2 linked regions of the Homo sapiens genome follow. The protein of the gene in region 2 purifies or fractionates together with the protein of the main gene of each other region. This does not show direct contact. Each region holds a gene or a part of one and is shown on either strand. Other genes may lie near its edges. The genes, in order: TPPP and PCTP.

Evidence for each region.
Region 1: the proteins of PCTP (region 2) and TPPP purify together in Homo sapiens (affinity purification with mass spectrometry; one large-scale study listed by BioGRID and IntAct). This does not show direct contact.

What each region holds. Positions count from the first base shown.
Region 1 is NC_000005.10:659,171-662,488, reverse strand, and holds the end of TPPP (tubulin polymerization-promoting protein), read left to right. Parts: 3' UTR 1-2,627; downstream 2,628-3,318.
Region 2 is NC_000017.11:55,775,051-55,778,201, reverse strand, and holds the end of PCTP (phosphatidylcholine transfer protein), read right to left. Parts: intron 2,892-3,151; coding exon of another isoform or gene 2,859-2,891; exon of another isoform or gene 2,168-2,858; coding exon 2,102-2,167; 3' UTR 828-2,101; downstream 1-827. UniProt on the Homo sapiens protein: Catalyzes the transfer of phosphatidylcholine between membranes. Binds a single lipid molecule.

The sequences.
Region 1 (3,318 bases), on a different chromosome or scaffold from region 2:
CCGCACGGCAGGCACAGAGGCTCGCCAGGCCCTGATCCGGTCTGTGGGGACGAGGGACACTGAGGAGAGGTGCTGGGCACCAGGACGCTGCCTCCTGGTCCCTGGTTGGCCTCAGACAAGCACGGCCTCGAGAAAAGAGCCAAGCGCATCGGGAGCACACCAGAAACCGGCCCTGAGCACGAGAAGAGCCTCCGCCCGGCCCGGGCACCACCCGACCTCGCAGGGAGCAGGCCCTGTCACCGACGGGTCACCTCGCCCACACGGCCAGCACCGACTCACCACAGCCCTTCCCAGACCTGGCTGGAGTGGCCGGAGCGGCGGGGCTCATGGCTCCCATCTTGGCCCCTGGAGGTGAGCTCATTCACAGAAGTGGTCCCTTCACTCTGAGAGAGAAAATCGTGGCGTGCATCCCAAACCCTAGGCCACGCCTGTGGGTTTCGTGAATGAGATCGAGGCTGCTGTGGCACCCTGCCCGTCCTGGCCTGGAGCACCCTGGGATCCTGGAGGGAGAGGCCCCACGCCCCCACTCTCCCTCCACACTTCCAGGGTTGGTGCCCACGAGTTAGAGGCACGCCCTCCCCCAGCGGCCCTCAGGCTTTTCTCAGACATGCGGGAGCCAGGAGAGCACCCTTCTCCACTCAGCTCCAAAGCGAATCTTTGAAAACACCCACTCGGCTCCCATCTCTGTCACCTAGCCAGGAGGGGTAGCAAAAATAAAGTCACGAGGACATAGTGGTCACCACTGTCAGTTACAACTTGTCTGTGGAATCCGTAATTGCATCTGTGTGCCGCCTCCGAACACAGAACATTGTTTGGACGGCAGCCCCACTGCACATAACAGACCCGTGCATCTTCCTCAGTCAGTTTCTGAATATTGTGAATTCAGGCAGGTGTGTGTTCTCTTCTGCATGTTTTTATGCACTGCCAATTAGCTTCTACTAACCACGGTTCAACAGAAAATAAATGTGTATTTGTGAATAACAAACTGCACAACCTGCAAACCAGGAGAGAGGGACAGGTTCTGTCAGGGGTGACACCAGGACACAGGGACAGGTTCTGTCGGGGGTGACACCAGGACACAGGGACAGGTTCTGTCATGGGTGACACGAGGACACAGGGACAGGTTCTATCATGGGTGACACCAGGAGAGAGGGACAGGTTCTGTTGGGGGTGACAAGAGGAGACAGGGACAGGTTCTGTCGGGGGTGACACCAGGAGAGAGGGACAGGTTCTGTCAGGGGTGACACCAGGAGAGAGGGACAGGTTCTGTTGGGGGTGACACCAGGACACAGGAATAGGTTCTGTCGGGAGGACAGTGCTGATCGTGTCTCAGCATCAGGAAAGGAGAAAGGCAGAGGGAGAGCGCTGAGAAGACTGTTCACGCCAGAGTGCTTATTTATTTTTAATTTACTGCTATAGGATAAGCAACCAGGTAGTGTTCCTAACAATTAGCGTTACCAAAATTAAAGTTCAAATTATATGTTTAAAATATTGTAGAAGATATATATTTATACTGGACTACTTTTACACCTTCTAATATCCTGTCCAAGTTTGGGCGCAGATGGTGGAGTTGGGCTGGCATCATGTCCTGTGGCCGCCCCACTTGCCTGTTGGTGCCACTCCATCCCGGGCCCCAGGGATGCCAGCTCAGGGCTGACCACAGCAGCCCTGCGTGGGCATCACCTCCTACCCCAGCCCCCATCCTGGGCTGCTGCGGCCGCCTGCTTTTGTGAATGGTGTTTTGTTGGCACAGGGCCTGTCCTGTGTTTTCACACAGGCCTGTGGCTCCTGCTGTACAAGTGGAGTGGGGAGGAGTTGAGATGGAGATGCCTTGGCCCTGGACACTTACCTGTCCCTCTACTGGCCCAGCTCATCTCCTCCTGTGGGCAATCACGCGTGCACTGGCCACCCTCCCACCCCACAGCACACACCACGAGGGGATGGCACAGGGGGAAGATGAGGCTGGACCGTGATGTTATCAATAGGCTAGAACGTCCTTCAAACACTGAACCTGCATCTTTCCTCCTCTTACTACTGAACACTTTGTGAGCTCTGGTGGTCCAGGGTGCAGCGTTTGTCCCTGGGCATGTGATGGGGAGTCCTGGGCACATCGAGATGCTTTACTTCTTTCTTTCGACCTCTTAAAAAACTAAACCAAGCCAAACCACAAAGGAAATCTGCACAACTTAAGAGAAACTTGAAAGGGATCGTGTAACTACTAGTTTGTACTAAGTTTTTTTCAAGAAAGGGAAACAAATTTATATATATATATATATATATATATGTGCAATATATTTTTACACTGTGTGATTAACATTAGGGAGTACTGAGTGCATCACTTTATCAGTGTGACGGGTGATGTCCACGTCATGGCTGTTCTGACTCTGAAAGCCACTTCTGCTGATGTCTAAACCGCACTCACCGCGGACGTCCGCGGGGTGGGGTGGCCCTGCTGTTCCTCCTGCAGGTGAGAGGTGTGGTGTTGCCTGTTGGACTTGCTGTTGAGCCTGGCTTGCAAACCTGTAGTGAAACAGCTCGTGTCTGTGTGCACACTGCTCCTGTGTCTGCTGTCGTTAACATTGTGTGTCAAGTTGGTAAAGTGACAAATAAAGGTGTTAAAACATGGATTTCTCTGTTCCTCAGAGCACACGTGTCTGTAACAGGTGATAACAGGGGATAGGTACTGGAGGGGCCCCAGGTGGGGAGTGTGCTGAGTGCCTCCACTGGGCTGAAGCTCACAGGGCCAAGGCCCTTGTGTCGCCTTTTCCCGAGGGAGTCTCTCGCTTCCTCATCTAGACAGGAGGACCGTGAAGGAGGAGCAGGCGGACCAGCCATCTGTCAGGTGTGAGTCCTGCTCTAGCACTGGTGTAGCCCTGGGTGGGGTCTAGATTCAAGGGGAATGGACATGAACACTGTGAACACCACCAGAGCCCCCAAAACAGGACAATGTCATCACAGGCTGCTATAAAAAAAATGCCAACCTGAGATACTAGCCCAGCGAAACAGTTTTCCAAAATGAGGATACAATAAAGGCATTTTTGGACAATGAAAAGAGAATTTGCCACCAGCAGACATTTAAAGAAATTCTAAATGCAGAAAGCAAAGGTGATCTCAAATGGCATGTCTGGTTTGTGAAGAAAGTGGAGCAAAGAGAATAAATAGGTCAATAACTCCAAATTAACAGTGGCTATATCAATACTTTGTGAGATTAAAATGTTTCATAAAAATACTTGGGAACCCCCACAGGTGAGCAGAACAGGAGCATGGAGAGGGACGCGCGCCTCGCGCTCCAGGAACCAACCCCAGAGGTGGGTGAGA
Region 2 (3,151 bases):
ACTTACTATAGCTCAAGAGTTTTCAGTTTCCTACATAACCTCAGCTCGTGAGGACTGTCCACTACTCTAAATTAGCAAGTAAAAATGCTAAAAAGTCTTAACTCCATTCATTACAGCAAACACTGTAACCTTTTAAAATAAGTACCTTACCTAGAAACTCAGCATTCTTAGTATTTTCAGAGTTCTTAGCAAATTATTTAATGTTATTTAAAGAAATGGTTTACATGACACCATTTCATGCCAATTCTCTTTCAGTGACTATAATCTCAGTGCTTTTATTTCAAATAATCTATTCATAAGATTTCAACTTGACTTCTATTAACAGGAAGTATTCAGATTTAGTTTATCTAGAATAGATTTCAGCTACATTATTGATAATGATATTTTAATGATAATTTTATGAGGCATTCACTTACTTGTATAATTCTATCCAGATGACCATAATGAGCAGGGCATAGATAAGCATATGTTTTAGAGGTGCTCTAAGTTATGGAAAGTGCAGGTCCTACTAGAAAGAAACATTGTCTTTTTTGTTTTGCTTGGCATGAGCCTAGGAAGATGCAAACCTACCTATTGCTGTTAGCGACAATGCTACCAGGAAATGCAGACCAATACTAAACGATCTGAATTCTAATCTCAGTTTGAGCACCTGTATTGATCCCTACATGAAGATACCTACACCTGATCATGCATATAAGTAAGCCCAAAATTATGTTTTATGTTTAAGTCTACAAATTAGGCTGAATATCACTTGCAAATAAAGGAGATCTAACTGATGCACACTCACAAAAGGAAGAAGGTAGGAAGGAAGTGGTACACAGGACAAGTAAAAACCACTCTATATTTATTCATTATAGAACACACTTTTCTTCCCAGAAAGAAAACAAACAGTCTGAGGTATCCCACATTAATAAATCCCATTCTGTGGCTTTACATCCTGAATTTCTGTTATTAATCAAGGTTCAGTATCATTATACACAGTGATTAAAATTTTTCCCTGAGATCATCAAGGCTGTGCCTTTGACATAGAAATACCTTACCCTACCAAAATTCAGGAGAAAGCATAGAAAACTAAAAGTCTTTTTGGTGGTAGAAAAGGCAGACAACTTAGGCAGAATTCCTGAGAAAAAGGTGCAGAGTCATTAAGCCACCAGTTAAATTTTACCTGGCTGTGAACTGTTATCCCTTCTACATTTCTAAATATTCTGGGAGGAAAATTCATCTTATTGCATAGAAAGATACTTTTTCACAAGGCTATGCACAAAGCATCTTTGCTTTTGCTAGCTGCCACAGCCATCTTGACGCCTCAGTTTCCAGTAAAATGCAAAGCTTGAGAGGTACAGGCAGCCTTTCCCCCAGTGACATATGGAAAAGAGAAATCATCCATTTCCTCATGGATGATGAGGAAAAATGTGGTTGTCATATTATGTGTCCGGTCAGGCCTCTGATACTTCTCCAAATGGTCTGGCATCATAACAGCTACTGATCCTCCACAAGTAGGAACGAGGAAAGACTTACTGGATTATCACCTCAAATCCCAGCCTAATCAGCTCCACAAAGCATAAGGCAAATGGACATTGGCACGTCATCCAGTTTGGGTGCACTGAAAGTCAGCTCTGAACGAAATGCCACTTCCAGCAGCCCCTCCCAAGCTGGAAGAAATCACAAGCTGCAAAAGAGCCAGCCCGCCCAAATAGTCATTCTTAAATTTTGTTGTGTCCCTCCGCCCACCCATCCCCGTAAAATTGCACAATGGAATGATCGTGTTCCCTACTGAAGACTTCCCCTCCTAATAGTAAGCAAGCAAAGGTTTCCCTAGTCTGCCCCATATTGAACTGTAGAAGAAGGCAGCCCAGCCCAGGATGGGGGGAGCGAGAAAGGAAGCAGACGAGTGAGCTGGATGTCAGGCAAACATGCTTAGAAAGGATGTGGTAGTGTGTAGGCCTCTGAAGACAGAAACAGCAGGGGAAGGCTGAACAGTGGTGGGTGCTCTTCCAGAGACACTTCCAGGTGGCACTTCCAGGTGGCACTTCCAGAGACATTGGGTGGTTGCACTTCCAGAGACATCAACCCATGGATGCAATGTTCCCAGTTCTCTTTCTTAGGTTTTCTTGAGGTAGTTCTGACAGGCTCTTGCCATGTCTTTCAAGAAGTTAGGAACTCCATTCTGCAAAGGAAATGAGACTGTCATTTCTATGTCTTCACAGTGGTCACTCTTGATTCTTTGGGATGTGGCAGAAGGTAAACAATGTTGGCTTTAGGACGAACAAAAATGAATAGGCTCCCTAACTGGATTTCAACAGAATGTTGTTGCAGATGATGACAAAAAGTAGGACTGAGGACAAAAGTAAGACCAGTCAACAGGAACTTCTGTTGCAAAAAGGCCTTATATGTTAGCTTTTTCTAGGAAAAAGCGAAGATGTTTCTGAAACAGTGTTTCTGGAAAAAAGAAAACACAAGAAATGGGCTTGGGCTGGATTGTTACATTCTTCCAAAGAAATGAAAGCACTTGCTTTACTGAATTAGAAAATGGTAAGGATTGGGGATCAAGGAGCAGGATATATTATTATTTAGTTAATGTTGAGCACTGGGCAAGACTTTTCCTAAATATTGTCTTATTTACTCCCCCTCTATGCAGTAGAAGACATCTATCTTCATTTTTAAAAAGGAAGAAATGCATGGCTTCCTTAAATAAAACAAGACAGTCAGTAGCAGAGCCAGGATTTGAAATTGCGTCTGTTTGACTCCAAAGTTGATGTGCTTTTTCACTCTTCCAAGGAATCTGTTGAGCTCTCTAGTAGTAGATCTTGTGCAAAGCAGGCTGATGGTCCCCATAATGCCAGGCTCCTGGGCAGTCTCTAGTGATACAAACTACCACTGCAGTTCCCTCCCTTATAGAGAAAAAGAAAAAAAAAAAAGGGCAACAACAACAAAAGTGGAAGCTTTCCTCAGGCTTGGACACATCTGGTTGTCTCCAAGCCAGGTCAGTCTGTCTTATTCCCCAGTAAGCAGAGGAATATAGGCTCCAAAGGCACTATTGTTCCTACTAAGAGCAGACTATTGTCCAGAAGTTCCAGAGAGTGATTCTGGCGGGGTCCTGGGGCACAAGCAGGGAGAGGCTGGCATTCCAAGCTGACAATTCTTTGTCTCT